Linked DNA regions of Homo sapiens. The protein of the gene in region 2 interacts with the protein of the main gene of each other region in a biochemical or structural test. Each region holds a gene or a part of one and is shown on either strand. Other genes may lie near its edges.

Evidence for each region. The genes of interacting proteins can lie anywhere in the genome.
Region 1: the proteins of TRPV4 (region 2) and SYTL2 interact in a test that uses a peptide from one of them, tested with the Homo sapiens proteins (one large-scale study listed by BioGRID).
Region 3: the proteins of TRPV4 (region 2) and MAP9 interact in a test that uses a peptide from one of them, tested with the Homo sapiens proteins (one large-scale study listed by BioGRID).
Region 4: the proteins of TRPV4 (region 2) and MTMR2 interact in a test that uses a peptide from one of them, tested with the Homo sapiens proteins (one large-scale study listed by BioGRID).

What each region holds. Positions count from the first base shown.
Region 1 is NC_000011.10:85,734,642-85,738,141, reverse strand, and holds part of SYTL2 (synaptotagmin-like protein 2), read left to right. Parts: intron 1-485; coding exon 486-567; intron 568-1,526; coding exon 1,527-1,641; intron 1,642-3,399; coding exon 3,400-3,500.
Region 2 is NC_000012.12:109,830,599-109,834,678, forward strand, and holds the start of TRPV4 (transient receptor potential cation channel subfamily V member 4), read right to left. Parts: upstream 2,801-4,080; 5' UTR 2,752-2,800; exon of another isoform or gene 2,750-2,751; intron 1-2,749. UniProt on the Homo sapiens protein: Non-selective calcium permeant cation channel involved in osmotic sensitivity and mechanosensitivity. Activation by exposure to hypotonicity within the physiological range exhibits an outward rectification.
Region 3 is NC_000004.12:155,366,966-155,370,465, forward strand, and holds part of MAP9 (microtubule-associated protein 9), read right to left. Parts: intron 1,848-3,500; coding exon 1,621-1,847; intron 1-1,620. UniProt on the Homo sapiens protein: Involved in organization of the bipolar mitotic spindle. Required for bipolar spindle assembly, mitosis progression and cytokinesis. May act by stabilizing interphase microtubules.
Region 4 is NC_000011.10:95,858,108-95,861,607, forward strand, and holds part of MTMR2 (phosphatidylinositol-3,5-bisphosphate 3-phosphatase MTMR2), read right to left. Parts: intron 526-3,500; coding exon 424-525; intron 1-423. UniProt on the Homo sapiens protein: Lipid phosphatase that specifically dephosphorylates the D-3 position of phosphatidylinositol 3-phosphate and phosphatidylinositol 3,5-bisphosphate, generating phosphatidylinositol and phosphatidylinositol 5-phosphate.

The DNA of each region.
Region 1 (3,500 bases), on a different chromosome or scaffold from region 2:
TTACTTCATGGGGAAAAGCAGGAATCTTACCCCTACCTCCACAAACTAAGGTGTTTTCCAAGCTCCTGACTCTGTGATGCCACTGAGAGAACTGGTGGTGGTAACAGGACACGAAGGCTTCAGCCAATAGCAACTTCACCTCCTGTGCCTGAGGCAAGACCACTGGAACAGGAAGTCTGAGCAGGTTGTTCCTCTCCCCACCCAGGGCCTCCGTGACCCTCTTTTGCCCTTCTCAATCAACAGTCAAGGGTGTGGTGGTTCTGGAGGGAGCCTGCTCACTTCACTTGTCTCCACTCACTCTTGCCTTACTCTCACTCTGGTGCTGTCCTGTCCCTGGGATAGGGAATAATTCTCTAGAGAATCCTTCTTATTCTTCTGCACCAGCTTCCTCTCCTAGCCTGCTGATAGCTTTCCACTTCAGAGGCATAATTTATGATTCCTCAAAAGGTGAGGTTTTATTCTCTGAATTATTGTTTCTTTTGCAGTTCCAGTGTGGTAAATCCAGCTTCCAGTGTGATTGATATGTCCCAGGAAAACACAAGGAAACCAAATGTGTCTCCAGAGAAGGTAGACTGAGCCCAGATTTTGAAAATCTTGTATTTGTTAGGAATGCCATTTTTCCTCATTGTGTCAAAGCACCACAAAATAAAGAGAATTTTGTAGTACAGTTTTTTGGTACCAAATACAGGTAATTTTCACTATTTTAAGAAGTCACTAGTTTAAGAAGTCACTCTCATGGTGGAAAAAGTGGATGGATACCATGTCATTGCATTGCTGAAGACCCAGATTTCTTGCCCTAGAGGGTAAAAAGTCTGAAGCTATTTGGTGCTGCTGCTTTTTAGCATATGGAATAAGGCTTGTTAGTTCCATGTCAGTCCTTATTCCTATATTCCTATGCATAGCTTCCTAAATCTCTGTTAGAGATCTGCTTCTGGGAGAGAATTGCTAATTTATTAAACTATAGACAGTAAACATTGTTATTGATTCCTATATTAATTTTTAAAACCTCTATTGATACCATTTTTATCATTAGAATTGATGATAATAATAATGACTATGAAGCACTTCAAGATACCTAAAATGTCTCCAAAATCTTTAGGAAAGGTCAATTACAGTTGTATTTTGTACACTTGTGATCTAGCACACTGAGAGTCTGGTATGGTAGAAGAATCACTGGTGGGACTCTGACCTGATTAGAGACCCAAGTTTCCTTTGACCTTGATCTGGTCTTTGCTATATCCGGGGCCAAGTTTTTTCACCTGTAAAATGTGGGATTTTGATTTAAGTGTCTGATTCTGAGCTAACTTTGTAGGACTCTGGCTTTGCATATATTTTATATAATTTTTAAATGGCATATATGGTAACTCTGTGCTAAGCAGATTAATCAGGACAACTGTTTTTCAAACATGCCAAATAATGGAGTTTATGGGATAAAACTATCAAAATTGAAGATAATAGGCATTTGCCAACACTGAGTTGCTGTCATGACATTTAAAATAAGTTTAATAAACAATATTTGTCCCCAGCAGAGGAAGAATCCGTTTAATAGCTCCAAGTTGCCAGAAGGTCACTCATCACAACAAACTAAAAATGAACAGTCAAAAAATGGAAGAACTGGTTTATTTCAGACTTCAAAAGAGGGTAAATATTATTTTTATGAACTTGATTTTTTTATCTTTGTTATCTGTGGACTAAGGGAAATTCTCAGAGTTCCTTTTGCTCAAATAACTTCCAAGAGAAAGTGAAAAGTCCTGATGGTTTTCTTATTTTACGGTGCTTGTTGGTTTCCTTCCTGAGGGAGAGGAAGCAGAAATTTGAGAAACTGATAGCTCACGCATTCCAGTCTCAGAGCTGTGACTTGTTACGTGACTTCCATTGTGTCTTGGATTCCCTCATCAGTAAATTGGGAGATTTTTTGACCCAAGACATTCAGTCTTCCACTTAACAGTATTTATTAGATGCCTACTGTGTGTTCACAAAGTTCTGTTTAAAAGGGCTTGCCTCAAGAAGAAAAAGCCTGTTGACAATGTTATGATCCTCTAATCTGTAATTCTCAGCCCAGCCGCCCAAAAGCGTTTGATCAGGTTTGTGGCTCAATTGATGTAAGTCAGCCTGCTATGGAATTTTATCATTTTTATATACTGTTAAGAGGAAATGCTAAACATTTCAATCTCTTCAAAAGCAACTTGAAGAAGATTCCACAAGCATTAAAGAGTGGTTAGGGGTAGAAAATTAAAAAACAGTGGAGCTGGGGTTTTCAATTAGCCTGTCTGAATATTAAAATACTTTCCACTGGGCACGTTTTAGATTACATAAAATATTTTGTAGAAGAAAATCACTGGAACATGTTAGATGTTTGTTTTTAACTTTTCTTTTTTTTTTTTGGCCATGGAGTCCCACTCTATTGCCCAGGCTGGAGTGCAGTGGTGCAATCTCGGCTCACTGCACCCTTCGCCTCCCGGGTTCCGGGGCTTCTAGTGCCTCAGCCTTCTGAGTAGCTGGGACTACAGGCGTGCTCTACCACACCCGCCTAATTTTTGTATTTTTAGTAGAAATGAGGTTTCACCCTTTTGGCCAGGCTGGTCTCAAACTCCTGGACTCAAGTGATCCACCCACCTCGGCTTCCCAAAGTGCTGGGATTACAGGTGTGAGCCACTGCGCTTGGCCTGTTTTTAACTTTCTGACAAAAATAAATTTTGTGTTAGGTAATGGGGTTTTATTTTTTTAAACTGAATTTCCTTTTCTGATTTCTGCAGGTGAATTTAAGTGACTTCTATGTTTTTCTTTAAGCCTCTTTTGAGAAATTTTCTTTTCATTCTTAAAAAAACTTTCTGTATTGGGTGTAAAATAATCACAAACTATATAAAGCACAGTAATCTTAAATGTACAGTGCAATGAAGTTTATACATGATTTTTCGAATAGACGTTATTTTTTAGAGCAGTTTTAGGTTCACAATATTGAGCAAAAGATACAGACGTTTTCCATATACACCCTCTCCCCACACAGGCATAGCCTCCCTCATTATCAACATTCCTCATGAGAATGGTACATTTGTTACACGTGATGAACCACATTGAGACATCACTATCACCCAAAGTACATCGTTTACATCAGGGTTCACTCTTCATGGTGTACATTCTATGGGTTTAGACAAAAGTATAATAGTGTGCGGCCACCATTGTAGTGTCATAGAGTAGTTCCAGTGCCCTAAAAGTCCTCTGTGCTCCAATGCATGAATTTTTAAAAGCTTTTCACATTAGGCCTGTAGTTGTGCCACATACTTTACTGTCTTTAATATTTTAATAGTTTCACTAAGTGTAGGTTAAGTTTATGACAGGTATTTTAAATTATATATTACTCTCTATATGATATATCACCTACTGTGTTTTAATTTTCAGATGAATTGTCAGAGTCAAAAGAAAAGTCAACTGTCGCAGATACTTCAATCCAAAAGTTAGAGAAATCAAAGCAGACTTTGCCAGGCCTTTCAAATGGGTCC
Region 2 (4,080 bases):
GTTATCTTGGCTCCCCAGACCCTATCTGTGACAACAAGAGGAGCTGTTACCTGGGTCCCTATAATTTGGAGAACGGACTGGAGTGTCTTTCCCAAAGTCAAATGGGGGAAACTGAGGCAGACAGCAGGGTCAAGGGCCTGCATGGAGTAGAGACACCCACTTCATGTAGACCCCATCCCCCTAGGAACAGAGGAAGGAACTCAAAGGACTTTGACCATCTCAAAAGTATTTGTTCAGACAACCATGCCATAGATACTGACTGAGCACCTACTATGTGCCAGGCACATGAGGCTCAGTCTTGTGTGTTTCCTTCCCTCCTACATCTCCTTCCAGCTGCCGCTCTCCACTCAGAGCTTGGATGACTTCCCCAGCCTTGGGGCCAGCCTCTCTGTCTGAGCTCCTCCAATCTTTCCCACTCTGCAGCCACAGGGACCTTTCTAGAACAGACAAACAACCGTGTCACTCCCAGGCAGGACTTCTGGGCCTCTGGGTCTGATTTAGCTCCTGCCTGTCTGATCCCTCACCCTTTCCAGTCACGTCACAAACTCCAGACAAACAGAACTATTTCTCTGCTCTATAAACCCCAGGTGTAGCCACCTGGTAACAGGTAAAAGTCATATCTCTGCTAGTGCCATTCTCTTTGCCTGAATACTCTTTCCTCTACTTCTGCATTTATTCTTTAAGGTGCGGCTTAAACACTACCTTGACCAAGCCCTCGTGGGTCCTTCCTGGGCCAGTCCTCCTACCCTACGGCATTCTCCCCTGACCCCATCCATTCCACAGCATACATTTACTAAGCGTCGGCCATCCATGCACACCTTGCTAGATGCTCACAAGTCAGGTGTGGGAGCTCCTCCCCGGGGGGCCACAAGGGAAAATCCTTCTTGCCTTCACACGCCTCAGGCTACAGCGAAGCTGGGATTGGAAGCATCTCACTGCTCCAGTGCCCAGCCCAGAGCTGGCACAGGTGAGCTTGCAGAGAGCATTTGCTGGAGGAGGGAGTAAGTGGCAGAGGCCCAGTTGGCACCAGATAAGGCAGGAGGAACCTCCACAGCCCCTTCCCCAGATATAAGGTATCTGGGTTTCACCTGGGGAATCCCAGCCATCCTCACCGGAGCTCATGTGAAACATCCCTCCTGGGGGCATCACACCCTTTTTGTTCAGGCAACCATTCCCTGGTTACCTCCATTTCAAAACAGCCCCACCTTGATCTTACAAAGTGAACCGCCCTGAACTATGACTGCCATTTGCCATTTGTGTCTGGGACCCCTTCCGCGTGCAATTCACCAATCAAGGTGGGTGTCCAGGCTTTCTGGTTCCCATCATTCTTCAAACAGAATGAACTAGAGAAATGTGGAAATGGCCAATTGACTTTTTTCACCCTCTTTGTTAAGAAAATGTTTGGGGCAACGACAACTGGTTAAACATTGATGGCAGCCAACAGTGGCTGTGCCAGGTTCCTGGAAGGTCATCGGTCCTCACGACAGCCCTGGGGGCTTGCCCTCAGGCACCCCAGTATTACAGAGGAGAGAACACAAAGGCTCAGACAGCTAAGGGACCAGGCCAAGGTCACACAGCAGGGGACTGCAGAGCACACCCCGGGCCCCACACAGGCCCGCTCTTAGCCCCGCAGATAACCCAGGCCTGACCTTTCTACCCTTGTTCCCCCAAAAGCCCACCTCGTCACCCTCCTCAGGAGCCCGGGGAGTCCCGACTTACCCTCTGCCCTTGCTCCGGAGCCAAAGTGGCAAAGCTTAAATCCTCAAGCGGTTCTTAGCATCCCAGAACAAAGCTCCCACAGGGTATCTGCCTAACATTTCAGGGGTTCACGGCCCCTCTGCCCCCAGCAGAGGCTCTTGTTTTAGAAGCTGAGCCAGAACAGCCACAGGGCCCACCTCTGCCCTGCCACTTCCCAAGCACCCCGGGGGCACCAGGCCCTGTGTGCAGAGCTGGCCCCAGGACAGGCCACCTGGTGTGGTGGGAAGGGCTTTGGGGCTGGATAGTCCCTGGGTTTAAATCCCAATTGTCTAGATCCCCGACCTAAGCCTCAGTTTCCCCATCTGCAAAACAGAGAGGACAGACAGAGGGAACAGCTGGGGCAGGCTGGAGCAGTGGGTGGCTCGATGAATGCATCTGTGGTTGGTGTTTCCAGGCAAGCGGGGAGTGTGGGAGTCTCTCTCTCCCCCACCCCCACCCCCGCTACCCACCCCCAGGAGCCACCCGCCCCCGGGACGTCCTGAGAGTCCAGGGCAGAACTAGAGGTTAAAGATTTTCATGCCTCTTGGAGGAAACAGCCGTCTCTCCGGGACTCAGTAACCAAGAAGAAGCCTTTGGAAGCTCCAGACTCCAAATTCCCTCCGACATGCTCAGGGGCCAAGGGCAAACCTTAGGTCCCCCGAAATCCCTCTTCCAAGTCTCCTAAGGTGGGCTGCAAGGCTCCGGGCCTTTGGTTCCCTGGCTTGGGGTCTCAGGGAACCGAACCGCCCTCCCCCCAGACCTGCTACCCCAGGCCCCACGTTGGTGCCCATTTCACAGGTGATAAAACCGAGACCCAAAGAGCCGGTGTCCGGCCCAAGGGCACTTAGCTGAGAGGCTGGCGCCTGCGGAACCTGGTGCCTTCCGTCTCCCGCGCCCCTGGCCCGCATTTTGGAGCCTCGGGACCCCCCGGAGCCGGACGGGCCACGGAGATGTCCCCAGGGGCGCGAGGGGACCTCGGCTGAGCCGCCCCTCCCGGGCCCGGGCCCCACTTACCTCCGGGACGGCTGGGCGCCGGCGGCCGGGAGATCCGCGCTTCCTGAATCCCGGCCGGCCCGCCCGGCGCCCGTCCGCCCGCGGGTCCCTCCTCCGCCGGCTCAGGTTCCAGCCGCGCGCCGCCCCCGGCCAGCTCCCCGCCCACCCGCCGGCTCGCGGACCCCGCCGAGCGCAGGCCCTAGAAGGGGCGGCCCCTACTCGCACCCCGCCCGCCCAGCGAGGGCCTCCCCTGCGGGGGAGGTGCAGGGCCAGGGCCTCAGTTTCCTCGCCTGGAAAATGGGTGTCGCGATCCCCGGATAGAGCGGCAGACGGTCTTTGGAGAGGGCTCTAGTTGGAATCGGCTCCGATTCGATCTTGCTCCGTGACTTCGGGCCGCCCTGGGACTGTGTCCTAGTCTCTAAATGGGCGTCCCGGCCCAGTCCTCCACGTGTTTGCTCATTCATTCATTCAGCAGACAATTTCCTCCGAGGCGTTGAAGGAGGTCCCTACCCTCGGGTATGGCCCATAGAGATGGTTCAGGGGTAAATAAATGTGAGCTGCTCTCCTTGGTCTTCACCCAGTGCTTACTGCGAAGCCTGCCTCGGAGTAGGCCATCAATGTTTTGTTGCTGTTGTTTTTGAGACAGGGTCTCACTCTGTTGCCCAGGCTGGAGTGCGGTGGCGTGATCAGGAATCACTGCAGCCTCAACCACCAGCGTTCAAGCAATCCTCCCGTATCAGCCTCCCTAGTAACTGAGACCACAGACGCCTACCACCATGCTTGGCTAATTTTATTTAAATTTTTTGCAGAGATAGGGTCTCACTATGTTGCCTAGGCTGGTCTCAAACTCCAGGCTCAAGCGATCTACCCACCTCGGCCTCCCAAAGTGCTGGGATTAGAGGTCTGAGTCACCGTGCCTGGCTCAATGCGTTTTTGTTTATTTTTTTTATTATTATTATTATTTTTGATACATGTTCTCCCTTTGTCACCCAGGTTGAAGTGCAGTGGCATGATCACGGCTCACTACAGCCTCAAACTCCTGGCCTCAAGAGATCCTCCCACCTCAGCCTCCTGAGCAGCTGGGAGTACAGGCATGCGCCACCACACCCCACTAATTTTTATTTTTTTGTAGAAGGGGGGGTGGGGGAGGGCAGCCGGTCTACAACTCCTGGCCTCAAGTGATCCTCCCACTTCAGTCTCCCAAAGCACTGAGAGTATAGGCATGAGCCACCACACCTACCCATGTATTTTCTTTTATCAGATAACAAAGGTGGGCCCCAACACATAGCCATACCCTCTACCCAGCACTGAGTCCACTTGAATACCTCCACAGGATGGGCAGCTCACTTC
Region 3 (3,500 bases), on a different chromosome or scaffold from region 2:
AAATTACAGACCAATAGACTTCATAAATATAGATGCAAACCTTAACACAATTTTAACAAATCACATCCCACAATAAAATATCACACCATGACTAACCAGAGTTTATCCCGGGAATGCTAGGTTTAACATACGAACATTAATGCCCCAAAATTCATGTTCATCCAGAACCTCAAAATACGACTTTCTTAGGAAATAAGGTGTTTACAGCTTTAAATAGATAAGATGAGGACACACTCAATTAGGGTGGGCCCTAAATCCAATGCCTGGTGTCTTTTTTTAAGAGAAAGAAGAGACACAGACATGCAGAGAAAACACAGGGAAGAAGGCCACATGGGATGAAGGCAGAGAAGGGAATGATGCAGCTACAAGCCAGCTACAAGCCAAGGAATGCCATGGACTGCTGGCAACCACTAGAAAGAAGCTGGAAGAGGCAAGGAAGGATTCTTCCGTGATGCCTTCAGAGGAAAATGGCCCTGCAAACACCTTGATCTTGGACTTCTGACCTCCAGAACTAAGAGAATACATTTCTGTTGTTTTAAGTTAACCAGTTTGTGGCAATTTGTTACAGCAGCTACAAGAAACTAGCACAATATTCAATGGATCAGATAATTTTCTTAAATATAAAGTATTTGCTTGGGTTTCTTCTTCTGGTTTTCAGAACAAATTAAGAAACAGCATGGTGGTGTCAGTTAGGCGTATATCAAATTGTCAGCTTTACTGGTAAAGCTCAACTGCAGAACAAGATTTGAATTGGTAGCCTATTGTGCTTCCTAATACTTCCAGTCTGAATTAGGGGGATTCCCCCATTTAGTCATTGCACAAAAGAGCTCCTCTCAGCACCTTCTGCCTCACCTCCCAGAGAGCAGATCCTTAAGCACCAACACTGCAGACAAGCGATGAGAAAAAGAAAGAAGCTTGGCCAGGTGGCATGCAGTTCCCTAATCTGCCCAAGCAGATTATGGGGAAGAAATGTTCTTCCTGTACTTTTCCCTTCTGAAATGTTCAGAAGGGACAGTTTGCTTCTCATAGTGAAATACAAAGAGAAAAACGAAGTGTTCTCCCTTAATAACAATGCATAGTAAATTCCCTGATGGAAACCTGAAAGGCCACATTTAATGCTATTGGAACATAACCCAAAGAACACAGAAGAGTGCCATGAACATTCAACACACATTTGTTGAGTGAATAAAATCAAATAAATAAAATGACACTGACTATATTGTTCTTAGCCATAAATTACATAATTCAAAGATACATAAATTTAAAAAATTATTAAAGATAAACACTATTATATAGATTCAGAAAAGCAACACTTTTTGACATTTTACTTTCTCTAAAACTGGATAAACTCTACAATCACTGGTGTGTTATAGTTTAATTGGATGCATTTCCTTCTTCCTTAGTGGTATGTAAAATAATGCTACGTCTTACAATTGATGCAGTTTTAGACTCGGTGGAATACAGTGTATTTTTAAAAATTATTTCCTTATCAGTTGCAGAAGAAAGTATGTAAAACACACACACACGCACACAAATTCATTCTCTCCTTCTCTTTTTCATAATCAGATAAAAAAGCATAAATTCAAGAACACAATTCAACAGTTTAGTGGTAGTGCTAACCTCAGGATCAAGGTTTTCAGAGAATGCTTTTTTCTCAGCTTCTAATTGTATGCCATTCGGCGTTGGAAGGGAAGAAGGTGCAGAATGTAACTCCAATTCTTCACTGAGGGCAGTTTCTTTATCTTCTAGTCCATCCTTCTCCTCCATGTGACTTTTCTTTTTCAACATACTCCTTGGCCGAGGTGATGGTTTAAAGTGATCATCTGTGTCAAGGCTGTTGTTTTCTGCTGAAAAATAAAATGCTTAAAGTGTGTGTATAAAAAAATGACCATGGCTTTATCTATCTCTCTGGGTGCTACCATACTTCCCTCCTGTGCCTATGCCCCTTTGTTCTCTGTCCTGAAGAGTCCAGATGAAGCCCACAACTCTTCTCTATACAGAGCTCTAGTAAGGCACAAATAAATGATGGTTAATAATCAGGCCGGACGCGGTGGCTCACGCCTGTGATCCCGACATGTTGGGAGCGGTGACTCACGCCTGTAATCCCAGCACGTTGGGAGGCCGAGGTGGGCAGATCATGAGGTCAGGAGTTCGAGACCAGCCTGGCTAACACGGTGAAACCCTGTCTCTACTAAAAATACAAAAAAATTAGCCGGGCTTAGTAGCGCGTGCCTGTAATCCCAGCTACTCAGGAGACTGAGGCAGGAGGATTGCTTGAACCCAGGAGTCTGAGGTTGCAGTGAGCCGAGATCGAGATCACACCACTGCACTCCAGCCTGGGTAATAAGAGCAAAAATCCATCTAAAAAAAAAAAAAAAACCAAACAACAACAACAACAAAAAAAAAACAAAGTAAAGAAACAGTTGTCATCCTGAAAGTAACCAGTCACAAGAAGTTAACTCTTCAACATTGTGAACTCTTATAATATTAAAAAAAAAATGTTAAAAATAAAAAAACAAAACAAAATCTTGCCCCAGTTTCTACCACTATAAAATGAGGAGGCTCATCCATCAAGCCTTTGAGTACCAAGCCCTGTACACGTTACTAAACCTCATAATCAACAAAGCGGCAATGGACCTGTCCAGGTACTTTACAGGTTGATTTTTCTAAACAAAATTACAAGACTAGATTACTAAGATTATAAGTGCTATTATAAGGACAAAGATGATGATGTTGGCACTCAAGGGATAGGAGTGCTAACTCTCATTAGAGGAAGGAATCTTTTATGAGTTAATTGTTCTGAGTCCATAAAACTTCTTTAGCATTTATTAAAATTTCACTCTTTCCATTACTTCTAAGTTTAAATCAAGAATCAAATGCTGATTTGCATCCAGTATTCGAAACAATGGGAAGACTTTCCATGTATATATTTTTTGCCTGCATTTTACCTGCTATACATATTTATGTTTCTATTGTTCTACAAATGCATTTTTCTCAACTTCAAAATTGGTCTAATTAACATCTTCCTCCCATTTACCTAAAAATGGGCTTATGGATTCTGCCAGAAGATTCCACAACCATACCAAATTGGTATTATTATAAGTAGCTGACAATTTTAGCTACATCCTAAACTCCAGCCAAATGTTCAACCCCAAATCCAAGGGCTCTAGATTCCTCCCTCTATTATCCCCTAAATCCAGAGTATCAATATATCCTATCAATTCTAATTGCCAAATATCTCATTTATTCCACTTTCTACATCCCTGCTGTCGGGTCCTTATCCACTCTTTCCTAGATCACTGCTTCCATGATATTTACAAAATCCAAATCAGATCACATCACTCCTTTCTACAAAATTATTCAATGGCTCCCCATGATCCAATCCTACAGAATAAAAGCTTAACTGCCTTTAAACAACATAAAACGGATTTTATGGTTTTGTCCTTCACTGCCTTATCTACAGCCATTTTGTCATCTGTGTTTCTGAAATGCTGGGCTAA
Region 4 (3,500 bases), on a different chromosome or scaffold from region 2:
AAGTGAAATGATATAAACGTGGGAGTCTAACACTGTCTAAAGCACATAGTGGGAACTCAGGGTTTGCCTACCCTTACCTCCCTCCCAAATTGCTAGTGTTAACTGGCTCCCAATTAAAAAGGAGATTACAAATCCTAATGAAGACAACAGGTAACTTTTCATCATGGAAACACCCTGAATAGCAAGATCATATAATCATAAAATGTTAGTGCTGGAATGGACCTCAGAAATCAGCTAGTCCAGCTTCCTTTATTTCATACCTAAAGAAATTGATCTAAGAGACTAAGTTACACTTACACTATACATCTGGTTAAATGTCAAAGCAGGGATGTAAATGTAGAGATTCTAGACAGCCTAGACAAGTTTCTTTATACGACATCAATAATTATAGCACAAATTTTCCAAAGACAGGAAACATTTTACCAGGTTATTAGAGACAGGAAATGCATATTTCATTAGATTCTCAAATATGGATCTTCTTGTCCGCCCCTCAGGTTTATGAGCAAATCGTAAATTCCTAATATCCTAGAAAAGATTTAGGAACCAAGTTAATAATTGTTCACTACTTACTTAAATGAATAAATAAGGTTACTTGGAACTATCTTGTAAAATGTTAAGATCTGTGAATGTGGGATACAAAAATAAATCAGACATCAGCTCCTGGAGACAGGGAAATTATAATGGTTTATTGGGAAAAACTGAAAGAAACACAAGGTACTCTACTATGAAGCAGAATTCAGAGGGCAGGAAATTTACCTATGCTTATGGACTCAAAATAGGCCAGTGAAAGAGGTAGTATTTGATGTAACCACTGGAGATTAACGATATTACATCTGAAGATTAATATCATGACTGATACAAACTATCAGCATATGTGCTTTCCCTGTGAAAGCCCATTTTCTGTCATAAATTTCTTTATTTATAAAACCTGATTAGTAGTTGTTACATTTCATACGTGTCTTCAGTTCATTATATCTGGTGATTATTTTCCTACTAACTATCCCTTCCCAGGGTTCATTTGCATTGGACCTTCTCTTCCTAAGTCCCCTGCTACTAGTAGACTTGATAGAACTAAACCCTGCCTGAAAGTGTTCCTTCCTTCACTCCATAACCACATTCTTCCACCATCTACTGACACATAACTCTGAATAGTTTAGTTTATATTATCCAGGCTCTACAGTAAGGTCTAAAGACCAAGTTTCCCTTCCATTTGTCCCTAAGCAGTTTTCTATGCTCAGACTGAATGCAGTTATTCATGTTCCGGTTTACTGGTATCTTAACAGCACTTAGAAAAAAACTGGGGATTAAGATAATTTCAAGGGCCAGGCACAGTGGCTCATGCCTGTTATTCCAACACTTTGGGTGGACAAAGCAAGAGGGACACTTGAGGTGTTCTACTTCTAAAACAGTGGTGGGGAAAAATTGGTATTGTAGACTTTTCCTATGTTCTTATCTACCGACATTCTTTAAATGCATTGATTGATACTTGAATGAAACATGAATTGTTACAAGTTCAAGGCCAGCCTGGGCAACATAGTGAGACCTTGTCTCTACAAAAAATTTTTTAAAAAAAATTTATAAGAAAAGAATAATTTTAAGACTGATCATTTTATTTAAATGTTTTTACCTAGGCAGAATTCAAAATAGCTTTATTATGCCTCATTTTGTAGAACCACACACAAAGCCTCTCCACTACAGTGTACCCACAATACATAAGTAAGACAGTATATGATCCAAAACTAGAATGCTGGCTTTACTATCTTTTAAAATAAACATGTGCGGGAACCTAAGCTGATATCTTGTTTTCCCTCAGTAAATATCTTTATAACTAGGTGAGATACTCAGAATCATTCTGTTAACCACAGAGTTCTCTGAAAGTACCATGTCAGGGGCCCTACAAATATTTTTGTTTATTGATAACGATCCTGTTCCATGGAAAGAAATTATATTTAAAATGATTAAGATTCAAAATTATCTTCTTTCACATCGTCTTATATTCTATGCACTACTTACTCTTAAACTACAGAAAAGTGATCAGGAAACAGTGTGCTTGACACATGGTTGCCAGCGATTACACTCACAGAGCCCTTCTGACTATAATGGAAAACCACAGGCCAGGCACAGTGGCTCACACCTGTAATCTCAACACTTTGGGAGGCCAAGGCGGGCAGATCACTTGAGGCCAGGAGTTCAACACCAACCTGGCCAATGTGGTGAAACCCATCTCTACCAAAAATACAAAAATTAGCCAGGCATGGTGGCATATGCCTGTAATCCCAGCTACTGAGGAGGCTGAGGTAGGAGAATCACTTGAACCCGGGAGGCAGAGGCTGCAGTAAGCCAAGATCACGCCACTGCACTCCAGCCTAAGCAACAGAGCCAGACTCTTGTCTCAAAAAAAAAGAAAACTACAAAAATAATTACTAAGTCATTAGCTTTAATACCAGAGTCACAAAACTTCTAAGATTAGCATAACAAAGTATCTTGAATTATACACATGCTGTTTCTTTTGGCACTGGCAGAATAAAAAGAAAGGAACAATGTGATGTAGAATCTCAATGTGCATGGGTGTTAGTTAATTAGGCCTTAATAACAGTGACCTGGAGAAGTGGTACGTAGAATTAAATACCTATGACTTAATGGTAAAAATGTAACAATCTATGTTTCATTCAAGTATCAACGCATTTAAAGAATGCCAGTAAATAAGAACATAAGAAAAGTCTACAATATCAACTTTTCCACACTATTGTTTTAGAAGTAGAAAAACTGGCCGGGCACGGTGGCTCACGCCTGTAATCCCAGCACTTTGAGAGGCCGAGATGGGCAGATCACGAGGTCAGGAGATTGGGACCATCCTGGCTAACATGGTGAAACCCCATCTCTACTAAAAATACAAAAAAAAATTAGCTGGGCGTGGTGGTGGGCGCCTGTAGTCCCAGCTACTCGAGAGGCTGAGGCAGGAGAATCCCGTGAACCCAGGAGACGGAGCTTGCAGTGAGCTGAGATTGTGCCAGCCTGGGCAACAGAGCGAGACTCCGTCTCAAAAAAAAAAAAAAAGAAAAATTATGAGAACTAGAAACAGAAAAGATAGGTGATGATGAATATAACATATTTAGTTATTTAGTTCTTCCACTACGAAGTAGTGGAACTGCTCAGAGCCTTATGTTGCTAATTTGTAAATTAAAGGTAGTAATGTCTATTGTGCCTACCTCACAGGATTTTTATAAGGCTCAAAGTGAAATCATCAATGTGGAACTATGTGGTATCCTATCAGTACTATGTGCATTAAAGATGGTTATTATTATTATTATTATTATTATTATTATTATTATTTCAGACAGAGTCTTACTCTGTTGCCCAAGCTGGAGTGCAGTGGCACTATCTTGGCTCACTGCAACATCCGCCTCCCAGGTTCAAGCAATTCTCCTGCCTCAGCCTCCCCAATAGCTGAGATTACAGGTGCCCGCCACCACGCCTGGTTAATTTTTGTATTTTTAGTA